5 linked regions of the Homo sapiens genome follow. The protein of the gene in region 4 purifies or fractionates together with the protein of the main gene of each other region. This does not show direct contact. Each region holds a gene or a part of one and is shown on either strand. Other genes may lie near its edges.

What was found.
Region 1: the proteins of TRABD (region 4) and NME2 purify together in Homo sapiens (affinity purification with mass spectrometry, with the first as the bait; 3 studies listed by BioGRID). This does not show direct contact.
Region 2: the proteins of TRABD (region 4) and AKR7A3 purify together in Homo sapiens (affinity purification with mass spectrometry; one large-scale study listed by BioGRID and IntAct). This does not show direct contact.
Region 3: the proteins of TRABD (region 4) and HSDL1 purify together in Homo sapiens (affinity purification with mass spectrometry; 2 studies listed by BioGRID and IntAct, with this or other methods). This does not show direct contact.
Region 5: the proteins of TRABD (region 4) and C1orf54 purify together in Homo sapiens (co-immunoprecipitation; one large-scale study listed by IntAct). This does not show direct contact.

What each region holds. Positions count from the first base shown.
Region 1 is NC_000017.11:51,165,260-51,169,210, forward strand, and holds the start of NME2 (nucleoside diphosphate kinase B), read left to right. Parts: upstream 1-1,151; 5' UTR 1,152-1,238; intron 1,239-1,241; exon of another isoform or gene 1,242-1,304; intron 1,305-1,462; exon of another isoform or gene 1,463-1,567; coding exon of another isoform or gene 1,568-1,571; coding exon 1,572-1,697; intron 1,698-2,982; coding exon 2,983-3,084; intron 3,085-3,951. Other genes in the region: NME1-NME2 protein, read left to right, coding at 1,568-1,697, 2,983-3,084. UniProt on the Homo sapiens protein: Major role in the synthesis of nucleoside triphosphates other than ATP. The ATP gamma phosphate is transferred to the NDP beta phosphate via a ping-pong mechanism, using a phosphorylated active-site intermediate.
Region 2 is NC_000001.11:19,285,971-19,289,994, forward strand, and holds the start of AKR7A3 (aldo-keto reductase family 7 member A3), read right to left. Parts: upstream 2,801-4,024; 5' UTR 2,740-2,800; coding exon 2,526-2,739; intron 2,391-2,525; exon of another isoform or gene 2,090-2,390; intron 403-2,089; coding exon 215-402; intron 23-214; coding exon 1-22. UniProt on the Homo sapiens protein: Catalyzes the NADPH-dependent reduction of various carbonyl-containing compounds, including aldehydes, ketones, and toxic products from cellular metabolism or environmental exposure.
Region 3 is NC_000016.10:84,124,903-84,128,195, forward strand, and holds part of HSDL1 (inactive hydroxysteroid dehydrogenase-like protein 1), read right to left. Parts: intron 1-3,293.
Region 4 is NC_000022.11:50,184,443-50,188,733, forward strand, and holds the start of TRABD (traB domain-containing protein), read left to right. Parts: upstream 1-1,470; 5' UTR 1,471-1,534; exon of another isoform or gene 1,535-1,603; intron 1,604-4,291.
Region 5 is NC_000001.11:150,275,766-150,278,603, reverse strand, and holds part of C1orf54 (uncharacterized protein C1orf54 isoform b precursor), read right to left. Parts: coding exon 2,805-2,838; intron 2,083-2,804; coding exon 1,972-2,082; intron 1-1,971.

The sequences.
Region 1 (3,951 bases), on a different chromosome or scaffold from region 4:
GTGGGCTAATGCTCTGTAACTAGAAGTTTGGAAAGCCGATAAGGTATAACAGAGGCCAGATTGTCATCCATCTGGCCAGTGACAGGTGATCAGCGCAGTGCTAGGGGCACTCGGGTGATGGCATGATTGCTGTGGTCAGCTCAGAGTCCTGAGGGGAAGCAAGCGGGCTCTCACCATCTCAGGGCAGTACCACTGCTGTGCGGCTGTCAGTCAGTGCTGCAGGCGCCGAGAGGAGGGGCTTGTGACCGCCCCAGGGAAGCTGGGCATCACCAAAGGGAGCTTGTTTGCCAGGGACACTGCAAGTAGGAAGTGTCTACAGGTCGATGACAGGCCTAATCTCTATGACAGGGTCTAGACTTTCCTCAGGGTCCAGGGGCGCACCTCAGGGTGAACTGGAAAACTCGACCGCACTTTAGTGCCAGGTGGGCAGGGATCCCCATGTCAGGGTGGGAGTGGGGCGGCTGATTGGGGCTGGAAATGTAGGTGGGGAGGCGGCAGCCAGGGAGCAGGGCATCCTGCGAGAAGAGCATCCCGCTAAGGAGTCTGAACGCCATCCTGTAGGCGGGGGAGTCATCAAGGCAGGGCAGAGGCAGGACCAGATGGCCGTTTGAGGTGCTGAGCAAAGCTCCCGGTTTGCGCGGAGAGGTGAGATCGAGGCCCCTTGGGAGGCCGAGGCTTAACCAGGGCTCAAGCAGAGGGGAGGGAAGGCTGGATTTCAGAGGTAGGGAGGATAAGGACCGTGGGTGCACGACGGGGAGGGAGAGCCAAGTCAAGGTTAATGCCGGTGCTCGGGCGGATGGTGAAAGCAGCAGATGGCCTTGACCGGGGTAGAGAACTCGAGCACAGGAGCAGGTTCTGTGTGTGTGTGTGTGTGTGTGTGTGTGTAGGAGCTTTTGGGGTCACGGGAAGTACTGAGAGGTGAGGAGTGGGATTTGGGACGTGCGTAGTTGAACTCATAGGACGTCCAGGTGGAGAAGGAATCACTTCCTGTCTCTGGATCCGTCTCGATCTCTGCCTGGCGAGGGCGCGCCCCGGCTGGGCGTGGACACTGTTCTCCGGCCGCGTCGGGCCGGGCGGGTGGGGCGTTCCTGCGGGTTGGGCGGCTGGGCCCTCCGGGGTGTGGCCACCCCGCGCTCCGCCCTGCGCCCCTCCTCCGCCGCCGGCTCCCGGGTGTGGTGGTCGCACCAGCTCTCTGCTCTCCCAGCGCAGCGCCGCCGCCCGGCCCCTCCAGCTTCCCGGTAAGGCGGTGGGGGCGCATCCCCTGGCGACTCCTCCCGTTCCCTCTTCCGCTTGCGCTGCCGCAGGTGGGCCCGGTCTGTGGGCGCCCCCCGATTTCCCGCAGGTCCCGCGCGGCGTCGGAGCGGGAGATTCCCTTGCAGCTTGCGCCCCGCGGGCCTTCGGGCTCCGCAGAGGGACGCCGGCCCTGCGCGGGGCGGAAGCGGCCGGGAAGCCACGTGTCCCCGCGGCCGCGCGTGGTGGGGGAGGAGGGACCGGCGGCGCCCACGTGGCCTCCGCGGGCCCCGCCAGAGCCTGCGCCCGGGCCCTGACCGCACCTCTCGCCCCGCAGGACCATGGCCAACCTGGAGCGCACCTTCATCGCCATCAAGCCGGACGGCGTGCAGCGCGGCCTGGTGGGCGAGATCATCAAGCGCTTCGAGCAGAAGGGATTCCGCCTCGTGGCCATGAAGTTCCTCCGGGTAACTCGCCCCCGTCTCCCCTTCCCCGCTGCAGCCGGCTCGCGGGTGTTTTTCCCTCCCGGCGGCGGTTTGTCCGCGTCTGCTTTCCGAGTTCATTTCGCTGCCGCGAAATCCCTTTGCCCTCTGCCCCCGCCCACGGCGGCTTGGGCCCGCCGACCCTTTCCCGGGGTGGTGGGGACAGACGCCCTTGGGAAGGTGAAGCGCTGGTAGCGTGACTCGCCCTCCGGGTTTGGGTTCCTTCCCGCGGGCCGCTACCTGCCCACCCGCCGCAGGGGGGCAGCAGGGAGCGGAAAAACCCCGGGCCCCAGACCCCCTGCGCCTGCCCACTCGGGTCCACCTAGGCACAGAATGGAGGCTTGGAATCTCCTTTGCTTTAGTCTGAAACTCCGAGTTCCAGTGCGGTGCTCCTCCTTTAGCATAGGGTAGTGAGTGTATTTTCCACATTAAATTTGGGGCACAGATCTGAATCCCTACACTTACGGGTAAGAATCTAAGTACTGAAATTCAACCAGGCTCATCGGTGAAGAGAATGTTCTCAGTTATTATCTGAAATATTTAAAAGGGCATTGTGAGTAGCCCAGGGGAGTTTAACATGACCTCTGCCAGGCAGATGACCTGACATATGTACTTCAGTTGCAGCCAAAATTTAATTCCCTAAATCTAGATCCTCAAACCACCTACTTTTTAGGCTTACAAAACCCCTAATGTCATTGACGGTATGAGGGTGTCTTTACGATTAGAACAGTCTTGGCCAGGCGCGGGGCTCACGCCTATAATCCCAGCAATTTGGGAGGCCGAGGTGGGTGGAGCCCAGGAGTTGGAGATCAGCCTGAGCCACATAGCAAGCCCCTGTCTCTACAAATAAATAAATAAATAAATAAAAATTAATTGGGCATGGTTGAGTGCATCTGTAGTTCCAGCTACTTGGGAGGCTGAGGTAGGAAAATCACTTGAGCCCTGGAAGTTGAGGCTGCAGTGAGCCATCATTGTGCCACTGCATTCCAGCCTGGGTGATGATAGTGAGACCCTGTCTCCTAAAACAAACCAAAACAACACACCAAAAAAAGAACAGTCTTTCTGTTAAAATGGCATTAGTTTCATGGTTTGGATGGGATTTAAAAAATATTTATGTGTGTGTATATGTGTGTATATATATATATATTTCCACACACCACTTAGGAACGTGGGCTAGAATATAAAACCGGACTTGCTAATGGGAGGTTCAGAGGATGGGTTGGAGTCTTTCCAGCTTAGCTCCTAACTGGTGCCTCCTCTCCAATGCCAGGCCTCTGAAGAACACCTGAAGCAGCACTACATTGACCTGAAAGACCGACCATTCTTCCCTGGGCTGGTGAAGTACATGAACTCAGGGCCGGTTGTGGCCATGGTGAGTGCTCGTGGGGAATGAGAGAAAATGAGGAAAAAGTGCTCAGTGTTCTTTGTTAGACATCTCCCTCAGCTAATCTAAATTTTATTTTATGAATGGAACCTGCTGAAGTTACTTAACTGAGCAACTAGGAGCTTGGGAGGAGAAAGCAAATCAGACCTTAGAAATGGGAAGGATGTTAGCTGGGTGTGGTGGTGCACGGCTGTAATCTCAGCTACTTGGGAGGCTGAGGTAGGAGAATTGCTTGAACCTGGGAGGCGGAGGTTGCAGTGAGCCGAGATCGTGCCACTGCACTCCAGCCTGGGCAACAGAGCGAGACTCTGTCTCGACAAAGAAAAAAGATATGGGAAGGACTTTTTCAGGTACATGTCTCTATGGTTAAATAGAATCTCACTGCCTGCAAGAGTGGTAAATTTTCGGGCCAGGCTTGGTGGCTCATGCCTGTAATCCCAGCGCTTTGGAAGGCTGAGGCGGGTGGATCACCTGAGGCCAGGAGTTAATCCCAGTTACTCAGGGGGCTGAAGCACGAGAATCGCTTGAACTTGGGAGGCGGAGGTTGCAGTGAGCCGAGATCATGCCACTGCACTCCAGCCTGGGCGACAGCAAGACTCCATCTCAAAAAAAAATAATACTCAATTTCTTCTGTTTGACAAGTGTTTTAGACCTTAATGTTTCCTAGATTAAAAAACTTTATCCTATTTTCTCATGAAAAATTCAAAGGTAAGGATGTAAGAAGTTCTCAATCCTATACTAGAAGCAGTTTCTTCTGGATGGTGCTAATGTCCATTTGGGAGTGGAGAGAATATGAGGAGAGAGTGGCTGGGCGAGGTGGCTCACACCTGTAATCCCAGCACTTTGGGAGGCCGA
Region 2 (4,024 bases), on a different chromosome or scaffold from region 4:
GGCCAAGCTCCACGAACTTGCCCTGCTCAGGTGAGGCTCCAGTCAGAACATAGTGCAGCCCAGACCAGGAAAGGGAGGCCAGGGTGGGGCCCCTGGGAGTTGGGCTGTTCCCTGCTCCACCCTGGAACAGCCCTGGTGCCTCTGCTCTCACCATTAGGATCAGGATAAGGAGAGCAGCAGTGGACCACCTCCCAGAGCTCAGGGGTCCCCTCACCTCCTGGTGCAGCTGGTGGCAGGCACGCAGTGTCTCTTCCACCGGGGTGCTGTGGTCTGGCATATGCAGGTAGAAGAGGTCCACTCGGGGACACTGCAGCCGCTTCAGTGACGTCTCCAGCTGGAACCGGAGACTGTCAGGCTTCAGGGAGTTCCCAAACAGTGGAATGGCCTTGGTATCAATTTTCACTGAGAGGAAAGAGAAATGAAATTCAGGGCCAGGCGCCGTGGCTCATGCCTGTAATCCCAGCACTTTGGGAGACTGAGGCAGGCAAATCAGAAGGTCAGGAGTTCAAGACCAGCTGGACCAACATGGTGAAACCCCATCTCTAATAAAAACACAAAAATTAGCTGGGCATAGTGGAGCCCGCCTGTAGTCCCCAGCTAGTCCGGAGTCTGAGGCAGGAGAATTGCTTGAACCCGGGAGGCGGAGGTTGCAGTGAGCCGAGATTGTGCCACAGCACAATGTCTCACAGAGTGAGACTTCTCAAAAAACAAACAAACAAACAAAACAAACAACAAAAAAAAAGAATCTTAGTTCCTAGTGAACTGGACTAACAGGTGAGTGGAGAGTCCTCTTCCCACTTTTCACACTTAGAAAGTCACCTAGGCTGGCAGGAGGGCAGTCACTGGAGCCCTTGAGGCCTAGCAAAGAGCAGGTTTGAGGAACTATTCATATGGAATTTTTCCATTCCACCACCACCCCTCTGCTTCTCAATTGAATTTAACTTCAGATCAGATCTGAGGACTTTCGCCAGCCAACCTTGGACTCAGACAGAAGACAAAGAAGGATTAAAAAAGGAAAGAAAAAAAAATCAGAAATAAGGGCCAGGCAGAGGGTACAGATCTGTGGTGGCTCACACCTGTAATCTCAGCACTTTGGGAGGCCAGAGCAGGAGGATCACTTGAGCTCAGGGGTTTAAGACCAGCCTGGGCAACAAAGTGAGACTCCAGTTTCAATGAATAATACAAAAAATTAGCCGGGTGTGGTGCTACTGTAGTAGTCCCAGCTACTCAGGAGACTGAGGTGGGAGGATGGCTTGAGCCCTGAGAGGTCAAAGCTGCAATGAGCCCTATCGCACCACTCCACTCCAGCCTGGGCAAAAAAGCAAGACCCTGTCTCAAAAAAAAAAAAAAAATCAGAAATATGGTTAGAGCTCTCACTGAGTGGCAGCCGGGTGATCTAGAAAGAGCGTGGCACTGGGATGCACGCACAGGCCAGGTTCGTTCTGGATCTACCATGTGGTGAATCAGAGGAGAAATAAGACTCCACTCAGACACTCAGTGGAAGGAGGCAAATGGTGCTAATACTAAGAACAAACAAACAGCTAACATTTCCCAGCCCTCACTATGTGCCTGCCAGGCATCGGCCTAAGCACTGCAAATGGCATCAGACTGAGGGCGGCTCCTCCTGCCCCTATACACACATCCTCCCCTCCGGCCACACCTGCCTCCTCCAGCACCCGCGGCATTGCCAAAACACATTTGCCTTTCCACACCCATGCCCACTGCCCTGACGCCCTTGCCCCTTGTACTCTTCCTGGCAAACTCCTATCCATTCTTTCTTCACGGGGTCCCTCCCAGGAAGGGGTCACTCTGGGCTCCCCAGCCATCTCTAGAACTGGAGCTTCCTGGAGTGGGTTAGTGTCCATTTCTCTCCAATAGCCTCCGACAGAGCCTCCCACAGAGAGGGCAGTGAGACTCTGTACCACCCCAATCCCTCATCCCCCTGAGGGAGCTGCCAAGGCTTCCGGGCACTGCCACCCTTGTGAGGTGCCCTTGTGAGTACCACAAGGTACTCAGAGCAAAGTCCGGGGCCCCGAGCAGGCTGGCATGTGCAAAGGAGGAAGCAGATAGTGTGCTGGGTCCAAACTCTGATTTTGGACTGTGCCAGGGAGTGCCAGGCGGTAAGAACAGAATTTCTGCAGATCAGGCCCGTCAAGGGCACCTGGAGGGCACAGGTGGGGACAGGAGCTGCACAATGCCAGATCCCAGTGTTTTTTGTGCTCCAGAGAGGGGCTAGCCAAGTCATTCCAGGCAAGACCAAGTCATCCAGGCGTCAGTGAGGGTGCTGGCTACCTCCCGGAAGAGAAGAGAGACGAACAGAAGAGAAGACGAGAGAAAAGTTGTCCGGAGCTAGACGTGCCTAAGGAGCCTGGTGTTCCCAAGGCTGCGAGGTGAACAGGGGTGGGGGCGGTGGGGGGGACAAAACTTTGGGTGCTGCCCCGGGGCCAGGGAGAGCGGGGCGGTACACGGCTGTGGACAGGCTCAGCTCTGCACCGTGCAGGGGGAGGATCAGGGGCCACTGTTACCTCTGCAGTCGCTGCCGCCCAGCCGGAGCCCCAGGCCGCCAAGGATGGTCTCGGACTGGCCCTCGCTGTACACGAAGGCCGTGTCTATCTCGGTGTGGCCGCGCTCCAGGAAGGCGCGCGTGACTGCGGCGCTGGTGGGCGCGTCCATGCGGCGCCCCATCTCCATGGCGCCCAGCACCGTGGCTGGCCGGGCCCGCGACAGCTGCCGGGACATGACGGCGGCAACGGGAGACTGTGACAGCCCAGGAGCCGCGCGCAGCGGTCGGAAGCACCAGGCTCGGAGCGGGCGGCCTCGTGGCTTTAGAGACGGGCTCGGGCCCCGCCCACCGGCGGGTGCAGCTGAGGGCGCGGCCGAAGGTGCCCGACGCCGCCCACGAGCTCGACTCCACGCTCGGCTACTAGGACCTTCTGCACTTGCACCGAGCAAGCAGCGAAATGGCTGTGGCTTCGTACCGGTGACTCGCGTCTTGGAGATTTTAACACTCCTCAACGTCCCCAAGGGTGAGGGGGTCCAAGGGTGGCGACTATCCCAAAAGGCGGGGACTCTTCGGGCCTCCCTGCCCCGTCGTCCCTCCTTCCTCGGCCTTGCCCCGGAGCTGTCCTGGGTTTCTGTCTCCTCCCGGAGGGAGCGCTTACGGGGTGGGGTGGACCTAGGGCTGTCGCGCCTGCCGTGTGGTCCTGGAGAATGAGGCTTACCAAAGGCTCAAGACAGCGTCCCCATGGAGTGACATGGTTAAAGTGTTGAAAGAAAAGAACTGTTGGCATTGAATTCTGTACCTAAGTGAAAAAAAACTGACTGGCTCTGGTGACTTAACGCCTGTAATGCCAACACTTTGAGAGATCAAGGCAGGAGGATCACTTGAGCCCAGGAGTTTGAACCCAGCCTGGGCAACATAGGGAGGCCCTGTCTCAAAAGAAAAAAAAAAAGATAGAAAAATGGACCAGTGCCCAGCGGCAGTGAGCTGTGATAGCTCTACTGCACTCCACCCTGGGTGACAGAGGGCAAATCTGTCTCCAAATACAAAAGAAAAAAAAAGACCAATAGACAGATGGAACAAATGAAAAACCAATAGCAAAATTGATTTAAACCCAATCATATCAATAATTACATAAATATAAATGATGTAAATGCTCACAAGTAAAAGGCAGTGATTGTTAGAATGGATAAAAAAGCAAAACCAAACTATATGGTAAATACCAGAAAGCTATTCAAATATAAAAGCAGAGATAGTTTAAGAGCAAAAAGATGGGAAAAGACATACACTGACAAAACTAAATTTTAAGAAGTTGGAATGGCTAAGTGAATATCAGACAAAGTAGATTGCAAAACAAAGAATACTGGCCCACACAGTGGGTGACATACTAGCCCACACCTGTAATGTTAGCACTTTGGGAGCCTGAGAAGGGAGGATTGCTTAAGTCCAGGAGTTTGAGACTAGCCTGGGCAACACAGGGAGATCTTATCGCTACAACAAAATTTTAAAAATTATCAAATTGTG
Region 3 (3,293 bases), on a different chromosome or scaffold from region 4:
ACCAATCACAACAAATACCCACCAATCACAACAAATACCCACCAATCAATCATAACAAATACCCACCAATCACAATACACACCAATCAAACAAATACCCACCAATCACAATACCCACCAATCAAACAAATACCCACCAATCACAACAAATACCCACCAAGCAATCACAACAAATACCCACCAATCAATCACAACAAATACCCACCAATCACAACAAATACCCACCAATCACAACAAATACCCACCAAGCAATCACAACAAATACCCACCAATCAATCACAACAAATACCCACCAATCACAACAAATACCCACCAATCACAACAAATACCCACCAATCACAACAAATACCCACCAATCAATCACAACAAATACCCACCAGTCACAACAAATACCCACCAATCACAACAAATACCCACCAATCAATCACAACAAATACCTACCAATCACAAACACCCACCAATCAATCACAATACCCACCAATCAATCACAACAAATACCCACCAATCACATTACCCACCAATCAATCACAATAAATACCCACCAATCACAATACCCACCAATCAATCACAATAAATACCCACCAATCGATCCCAACAAATACCCACCAATCACAATAAATACCCACCGATCAATCACAACAAATACCCACCAATCAATCACAACAAATACCCACCAGTCACAACAAATACCCACCAATCACATTAAATACAACAAAGGAAAAAGCCTCCAGGTACTACTGTACTGAATACCTACTTTTGCCTAAGATCTTACCCTAGATTCTACATGGAACAGAAACATGACCACCACCCACCTACCCGACTTTCTGTAATGAGGCTGGACTGTCCTGCATGTAAATACAATTCTGTCTTTACTTAACGTGATATGAACAAAATGTTCACTGGTTAAGAACCACAAAATCGGCTGGGCACGCTGGCTCATGCCTGTAATCCCAACACTTTGGGAGGCCGAGGCGGGTGGATCATGAGGTCAGGAGATCGAGACCATCCTGGCTAACAGGGTGAAACCCCATCTCTACTAAAAATACAAAAAATTAGCCAGGCGTGGTGGCGGGAGCCTGTAGTCCCAGCTACTCAGGAGGCAGAGGCAGGAAAATGGTGTGAACCGGGGAGGCGGAGCTTGCAGTGAGCCGAGATCGCGGCACTGCACTCCAGCCTGGGCAACAGAGCAAAACTCTGTCTCAAAAAAAAAAAAAAAAACACCACAAAATCATTATAGGAATAAATCAGTTGGAACAGACAGACGCATACGTGGTTAGTACTCTATGAGAAAACTGGGGCTTGAGGGGTAGTATGGAACAAAGTTCAACAAGAAAACAGGTCAGAAACACCAGTACCTTGGGATGGTATCTTGACCTATGATGGGGGTGCTCAGGGGACCAGGGAAGGGAGTCCTGCTGATGCTGCTCTGCTTCAGGGTCTCACTCAGGGCCTTTGTGCTAGCAGCAGACATAGGGCAATGTCTGAAAACAAATTTGGTCGTCACACTGGGAGTGGATGCTACTGGTATCTAGTGGGTGGAGGCCCAGGATGGTGTTCAACATCCTACAATACACAGGACGCTCCCCATGTCAAGGAATTACCTGCTCTCAATGCCAACAGTGCTGAGGTGGAGAAAGCCTACACTCCTCTAACAGATTTGTTCAGAACCGAATGAAAGTTCTAACACCGTGTATACGAAAGAGAAGAGAGACAGGCCCTTGGCAAGTACTGACATTCTAGTCTTGAACTGAACTGATGAATGATAATAGAGGTCATTCAATCCTCTTGTCAATAAATGGACACAGGTTACTCTCCAGGGAGGACACACCCACACCCACACACACACACACTCACGCACTTTGTGAACAAAATCACAGCAGCAAAAGCTATCAGAGAAATATGCCATGGACAAAACAGCAAAGGATGAATCAAATCTTTGATGTAAAATTGGAAATAAAAAATGATAGTGTTGAAAATAATTTGAGTAACATAAAATGAAAACAGAAAGTTTTAACAACTTTATACAGAAAACTACTCCAGGAATTAAATCAGCTTAACAGAATTTCTTGGCAGAAAAATACATTCTCAAGGAAAGTTTATCAATGTGAACAAAATTTAATTTTGAGTAAACTGTTCGTGTTTTATAAACACAGTCAAAACATCTACTGCACCTAAACCTGATCCTCATATCTTTATTTCTAAAAAAATTTTATGGTCAGTGACTTCTAAGACTACTTTTTAGGTTTCTCTGCTTTTCTCAAGTAATTAAAGGACCTGGAAACAACTACTTAAATAAAACTGTTTCTTCTTTTTTTTTTTTTTTTTTTTTTTTTGAGATAAGAGTCTAGCTCTGTCACCCAGGCTGGAGTACAGTGACGTGATCAGCTCACTGCCACCTCCGCATCCTGGGTTCAAGCGATTCTCATGCCTCAGACTCCCAGGTAGCTGGGACTACAGGCGTGCACCACCATGACCAGTTAATTTTTATATTTTTAGTAGAGATGGGGTTTCACCATGTTGGCAAGGCTGGTCTCGAACTCCTGACCTCAGGTGATCCACCAGCCTCAGCCTCCCAAACTGCTGGGATTAGAGATGTGAGCCACCACCACGCCCGACCAAAACTGCTTCTTATTAATCTCTCACTTTTCATAAAAGTCATAATTAACTGTTGATATACTTACATGTTTATTTGGTAGTGGCAAATCTAATACTCTTCATGCAAACAGTCCCAAAAATATCTGTTTGATAATTAAGAAAACTCCGAATATTAAAAAAAAAAAAAAATTCGGACCAGGTACAGTGACTCACACTGGTATTTTTTTTTTTTTTTTTTGTGAGACGGAGTCTTGCTCTGTCGTCCAGGCTGGAGTGCAGTGGTGTGATCTCGGCTCACTGCAAGCTCTGCCTCCCGGGTTCACGCCATTCTCCTGCCTCAGCCTCCTGAGTAGCTGGGACTACAGGCGCCCACCACCACGCCTAGCTAATTTTTTTGTATTTTTAATAGAGACGGGGTTTCACGGTGTTAGCCAGGATGGTCTCGATCTCCTGACCTCGTGATCCGCCCGCCTTGGCCTCCCAAAGTGCTGGGATTACAGGCTTGAGCCACCACGCCCTGCCAGCTCACGCTTGTAAATCCCAGCACTTTGGGAGGCCAAGGCGGGTGGATCACCTGAGATCAGGAGTTCGAGACCAGCCTGACCAACATGGTGAAACTCCATCTCTACTAAAAACACAAAAATTTGCTGGGCGTGGTGGCAGGCACCTGTAGTCCCAGCTACTCCGGAGGCTGAGGCA
Region 4 (4,291 bases):
CCCAGGCCTGCTGGGTCAGCCTTCCAGGCTCGCTGAAGGTTCCTGCGTGGGGCAGCCCTCACTGAGGTCCTCCCCGTGGCTCCAGAGAGGAGCTAGTCCTAGGGCACTCGAGTAGAGAGGTGCGCCCTCCTCCCTCTTCTAAATGGTTCCCCAGCTGGCCCCACCTGGCCCCTTTCCCCAACTAACTCATCAGTGCCTGGCAGGAAGACACAGCAGCCCTCCCCCGGTGACTGGAGTCCTGGCCCCAGGGCAGGCCCCGCTCCAAGAACCTGATCCTTTGGCTGGGGCAGGGCCGTAGAGGTGGGCGCAGAGCTTCGGGGAGCTGGCTGTGGGGTCCGCGCATGCAGCCCGCAGGCAAACCATTGCCAGGCCCACGCCTGCACTAAGCCCAGCGCCAGCGCCAGGTCAGCCAAGAACCCGGGGTCGTGGAGGAGGAAGGAAGTCGTGGGCCCGGGATGCGCGGCCGGACCATTGCAGGAGAGCGGGGCAGGCGGACGGCGCAGCAGCTTGCGGGCAGCGAGTCGTCTGCATGCGGCGGCGAAGCGCCCGGGCCCCCGTCCGCGCCGGTGCCCGCAGCGCGCAGCAACTTGGCCGCCGGGTCCCGGCCGCCCCGGTAGAGGCTGGGTACAGCGAGGGGGCCGGGCGCCCGGGCAGGACGGGCGCGGCGGGTGGGGCCTGGCCGTCTCCCCCTGCCCTCGGGGCCGAACACGCACAGCGAGAGTCTAGCGTCGGCGTGGCTGCGGCCAGCCGGGTCCCCCTGGAGGCCTCCGGACGATCGGAAGTGACTGAGCGTCCGGGTCCGTGAGGCCGGGGGTCGGCCCGCCCTAAGACTCCCACCTGGTCCCGGTTCTCCGTCCGCTAGGCTGGCCGCGGGGCCCCTGGGGCCCGACCTTCCCGGGGTGCCCCAACCTGCGGCAAGGCCGAGGTCCCGCTGAGGCATGAGTCCCGGGTCGGGGACCGCTCTGGGCCGACCCCCGGAGGACGGACTAGGCCGATCCCCAGAGGGAAGGGGGCCAGGCCGAGGCCATGGCAGCGCGTTCCCTGATCCCGTGTTCTCGGCTCCTCGCGTCCCACTATCGGCTGTCCCTTTCGTGCGGGACTGACGGCTCACAGAACAGTTACATTTCAATATCATTCGACTGAAAACCATCCTGTGGACGCCGTGCGAGCATTGTCCCCATTTCACAGCTTGGGAGCTGCGACCAGAGAACGTGGGCGCGCCTCGCAAGGCCGTGACCGCGGCGGGACTCGAACCCTCCCTCCTGAGTGCGCGCCGATGTTCCTTAGGACCCGGGAGCGCCGGGGGGGGGGGGGGGGGCGGGGGCCCCGCGCGCTACCCCCTGGGAAGTGTAGTCCGAAGTTGCGGGCCGGGGCCAAGCAGGAGGCGCGTGGGACTACACTTCCCGGCATGCCACGCGGCCGCCGGCGCCCTCGGCCCGTCCGCCCCGCCCCGCCCCGCGGCCCCAGCCCGCCCCGTCCGTTGAGGGCCCGCGCCGCATGGAGGCCGGCTGAGGAGCGCCGCTGCCTCGCCTCGGTACGCCGCGCGGCGCGGACGGCGCGTGCGTGAGGACGGGGCCCAGCACCGAGCGGGGGGCGGGCCCGGGTCAGGGCCGCGGGGTGACTGTGGGGGGCGGGGGGAGCGAGCCCGAGTCGGGGGGTGGGGGCCGGGGGCGGGGGGGGTCAGGCCCGGGTCAGGTTTTGGGGCCGGGGTAGCAGGTCGTGGGGGTCAGGCCCGGATCAGGTTCAGGTTTTGGGGCCGGGGGAGCAGGTCGTGGGGGTCAGGCCAGGGTCAGATTCAGGGTTTGGGGCTGGTAGACCAGGGTCGTTGGGGGCCGGGCCCGGGTCAGGTTTGGGGGCCGGGGTGGCAGGTCGTTGGGGGGGCCAGGCCCGGGTCAGGTTTTGGAGCCGGGGGAGCAGGTCGTGGGGGTCAGGCCCGGGTCAGGTTTGGGGCGGGAGCAGGCCCCGCGCGTCCCCTGCCACCGCTGCCGGGAGCGGCGCTGCCGAGGAGCGGAGCCCCCCAGGGCTGGGGCGGGGAGGGTCAGCGGCGGCCTCGCGGGAAGGCGCGGGTCGGACCTCGAGTCCCAGGGTCCTCGCGGGTCGGGAGGGCCCCAGCCACCCCCGCCTGCCGCCTGCGGTGGAGCCGGCCGAGGTGAGAGTGGAGGAAGGCGGCCCAGGCCTGCGGGTCTCTGGGGGTGCTGGGGGAGGCCGAGCGGGAGGCCCCGGACCCCCGTTGTCCCCTCCGGCCCCGCTGAAACCTGGGGCTTCGCTCTTCTGTAGGTGCCTTTGCCCTTCAATTGGAGCAGAGCGGGGTTCCCATATGGGCGAAGTGGACGCCAGATCGTCCCCCGCTGTGCGCAGCCCAAACTTAAAAGGTCTTTTTAACTGAGCTATCATGAAGCTGCCGTGTGTCTTTGTCAAAACTCTTACAAGAAAGATGGAGTGGGAGCTGTCTGGGCACTAGCGTCCCAGAAACAACCAGGAACTTGTGGAGGTGCTAAGCTCCCTGCGGGGACTCCCGCAGCCTCGGTAGCCTCCAGATGGAAGCCTCCTAGCTTTCAGGTCCCTGAAGAGGCCGTGCAGGCCGCCAGGCTCACTGCGCTGTGTGTCTCTGCTCCCCGCTTGCTGCCGCCGCCCTTGCAGTGTGACTGGTGGGGATGCTGGCCAGCCTCGCCGGAGGCCCTGATGCTGTGGGGTCCGAGGAGGGGGCCTGGCAGGGTGGGTGGGTGGCAGGAGCCTGTGGGGCCCCCTGCATGGTGGTCAGTGTGGGGGCTCTGCATTGACTGTGACCAGGTCCTGGGAGGTTGGGGGCTGCCAGGTGTGCTGGCAAGGAGGCCTCGGGCTCTGGCTCAGGTGTGTTTCCCGTCTCCCAGCTCTGCCACACCTGCGTGAAGCGGTCCCGCCAAAGCCGGGAGGGGTTTCCTGTGGCCAAAGGTGCCAGGCATCAGAAACAGGAAGCAGGGGAGGTCAAAGCTCTGGGCCACACCCTGGTCCCTCCAAGTTTGTCATTTCTGCAACCCCCAGGTCTGACCAGTTTGGAACCTGGGCTTTCTGAGCCGGTCTAGTGGGTTGGTTGAGAGATGGGGGTTTTTCTGGTAACTGCATTTGGTGCTAGCCAGTTTTTGGTCTGCACTAGGAAGCTAGGCTGCAGTCTGGGAGGCAGTTTCTAGTGGGGTGAAGGGGATAAGATGGGTGTCTTAGCTCTAGCTGCTGTAACAAAGCATCACAGACCAGGAAACTTTAAAAAACAGCAGGCTGGGCTGGGTGTGGTGGTTCACGCCTGTAATCCCAGCACTTTGGGAGGCCGAGGCGGGCAGATCACGAGGTCAGGAGATGGAGACCTTCCTGGCTAACACGGTGAAACCCCGTCTCTACTAAAAAATACAAAAAATTAGCTGGGTGTAGTGGCAGGCGCCTGTAGTCCCAGCTACTCGGGAGGCTGAGGCAGGAGAATGGCGTGAACCCGGGAGGCAGAGCTTGCAGTGAGCCGAGATCATGCCACTGCACTCCAGCGTGGGCAACAGAGTGTGACTCTGTCTCAAAAACAAAAATGAGGTCTTGGCCTGGCGCAGTGGCTCACACCTGTAACCCCAGCACTTTGGGAGGCCGAGGCAGGTGGATCACAAGGTCAGGAGTTCAACACCAGCCTGGCCAAGATGGTGAAACCCCATCTCTACTAAAAATACAAAAATTAGCTGGGGGTGGTGGCGCACGCCTGTAATCCCAGCTACTCGGGAGGCTGAGGCAGGAGAATCGCTTGGACCTCAGGGTGGGGGAGGTTGCAGTGAGCCAAGATCACGCCACCGCACTCCAGCCTGGGCGACAGAGTGACACTCCGTCTCAAATAAAAAAAAAATGAGGTCTCGCTAAGTTGCCCAGACTGGTCTTAAACTCCAGACCTCAGACAATTCTCCTACCTCAGCCTCTCCTGAGTAGCTGGGGCTGTGAGCGAGTAGGCTCCTCCCACCATGCCTCACTGGTGCTGGGAAAAAACTTAACAGAAATTTATTTTCTCAGAGTTCTAGGGGCCGGACATCCCAGATCAAAGGTGCTGGTCCCTGGTTGCCATGCAGCCTCCTGGCTTGTAGACGGGCCCCCGCGGCGTCCTTACCCGGGGGAGCAAGAGCTGCGTGGCGTCTCTTCCAGGAGTACTAACCCCGTCATGGGGGCTATGCACTCATGACCTCATCCGAACCTGATCACCTCCTGGAGGCCCTGCCTTCTAATACCTTCATAGTGGGAGTTAGGGCTCTAACCTGTGGGTTTTGGGGGACACAGTTCAGTCTGTAGCAGT
Region 5 (2,838 bases), on a different chromosome or scaffold from region 4:
CTCCATTCCATTCATTAATTTCTCTTCCTCCCACTCACTACAGGCACAGTCACTGGCCTTCTGAGCTTGTGTGTACTGGCTCTGTTGAGCTCATTTACTTTCATATCTGTGACTTTGCACTTAGAACTCTAGCCCTGATCTAGTTCAGTGACCTTTAGGACACCCTCATAGGGCTGTCACCATAAACTCAGCTTGGCCATTACCAAATTAATAACTTCTGTCCTAAACCACTCTGGCCTCCCATAGTTCCCACTTTGGTCAACCATTTTCCCAGACATCCATGTTTAAAACCCATGAGTTATTTTAACTCACTCCTCATTTATACTTCATATAAAATTATCACTCAAGCAAGGTATTTTCTTCATAATATTTATTTTTCTCCTCTCCATTCATAATGCCAGAGTACAGATTGTTTCTGGAACAACGCAAATCTCATGAGTTGCTTTCCACTAAATTATTTACATCCTGCATACAACCTGAAGAGTGGTTTTTCTTTTTCTTTTTTTGAGATGGAGTTTCACTCTTGTTTCCCAGGCTGGAGTGCAATAGCGCGATTTCGGCTCACTGCAACCTCCGCCTCCCAGGTTCAAGCGATTCTCCTGCCTCAGCCTCCCAGGTAGCTGGGATTACAGGCATGTGCCACCACACCCAGCTAATTCTGTATTTTTACTATAGACAGGGTTTCTCCATGTTGGTCAGGCTGGTCTCGAACTCCCGACTTCAGGTGATCAGCTCACTTCAGCCTCCCAAAGTGCTGAGATTACAGTCGTGAGCCACCACACCTGGCCGGTTTTTCTAAAATATCACTTTTCATCGTGTTTTTACCATAATGAAGAACTTACTAGGCTCCTTGTTGATTATGAGTCCAGACTTCAGCCTGACACCTGAGACTCTCTGAAATTTGCCCCTATGTTGCCACATGTGAAATTACTAAGCAAGTATTAGGAGCCTTGTAAATTTTATATTTTTCTTAATTCCCACTGTTCCCTTCCATATACCCTCTCCTTCAATCATACCCTATTTGCTAAACATATTATGCTTGTTCTATTCCCCCCTCCTGTGCAGCTCTTTCACTCTTTTTTTTTTTTTTTTTTTTTTTTTAGTATAGAGTCTCACTCTGTCGCCCAGGCTGGAGTAGAGTGGCGTGATCTCGGCTCACTGCAACCTCTGCCTCCCGGGTTCAAGTGATTCTCATGCCTCAGCTTCCCAAGTAGCTGGGATTACAGGCACGCACCACCACGCCTGGCTAACTTTTGTATTTTTAGTAGAGATGGGGTTTCCACCATGTTGGCCATTGAACTAGCCTTGAACTGCTGACCTCAAGTGATCCGACCACCTTGGCCTCCCCAAAGTGCTGGGATTACAGGCATAAGCCGCCATACCTGGCCTCTTTCACTCTTGGAATAACTATTCTTCCTCCTAATTGCTTCTGTCCTTCCATAACTACCCACCAATCAAAAGCTCATCTATTCTTCAGGGTGTATCTCAAGCACAAATGCCTCTTGAAAGCTTTTCAGACAACTCTAGCCTGTACTAATCTCTCTTCTTACATTGGCTAAAGCACTGCCAGTATCTTCTGCTTTCAAATTTATATATAATTTAACATCATAACATACCTTTTCATTTTGTTCTAAGTGTTTCGTAAACTTGAATTTTATAAATCCTTGAGGACAGTAACATAGATTTCTTTTTTATCAGCATCAGTTACCTTAGCAGCCTTAGGCATAGATTACATACCTATTGAATACTACTGAACTGAAATTTAACTGTACCATATCTTCCCAGTGTTCTGTAAACAGGGTTAGTATTAAATCTTAGTGAAACATGGCCAAGTTGAGATGAATACCTGCAATGAAGTACTAATTATTTGGTTCTCCCATCCACCAAAGCCTGGTATTCCAGCCCTCTATGTATTCCACGTCACTAGGGATGTCCTGTCTCCCCCCAGCCCCCAATCCCCAATCAACTCACAGGTTCCGTTGTTACTGGTTTCACAGTTACAGGCTTCGGATGGTCTGCACGTGCTGTTTCAAGACTAATGGTAGTCTCTATTGCTTCTGTTATGTCCTTATCCAACCTGTTCTACCCTCAGTAGGATTTGGGAAACACAGAGTTATCAGTTTTTCCATCCAACATCTTCATAGATTCTCTACTTAAAGTTCTCCCCTTCACCACCTCCACCCAGCCCAAAGACTTAAGCTCAGGGATTCCCCCCTACCCTATGCTTGCATAGATTTGTACCCATCTCATTCAAAAGTCCCTTGATGCCCCTCCTCAGTGTCTTAGCAAACTTACTGAGGACAATTTATAAAGTTCTGGCTTTTTTCTCCTCCCCAGATAGGTTAACAAATCTGTTTTGGGCCTACTACTTAGTTTCTCCTCATCAAACTCATTTTTATTCTTGTTAATCAGATACATTTCAACATTGCCCAGTTTCTTTTCTTTTCTTTTTTCTTTTTTTTTTGTAGATGAAGTCTGGATCTGTCACCCAGGCTGGAGTGCAGTGGAACGATCTTGGCTCACTGCGTCCTCCATCTCCCGGATTCAAGTGATTCTCCTACCTCAGCCTTCTGAGTAGCTGGGATTATAGGCATATGCTACCATGTCCAACTAATGTTTTTGTATTTTTAGTAGAGACGGGGTTTCACCATTTTGGCCAGGCTGGTCTCAAACTCTTGACCTCAAATGATCCACTCGCCTTGGCCTCCCAAAGTGCTGGGATTATAGGCATGAGCCACTGCGCCCGGCCAGTTTCTTTTTAATTGTTACTTATCCTAACCCTTTTAGATGTAGAGTTCACTCACCAGCCTGTCCTCTGACTCAAATATGGAGTAATCA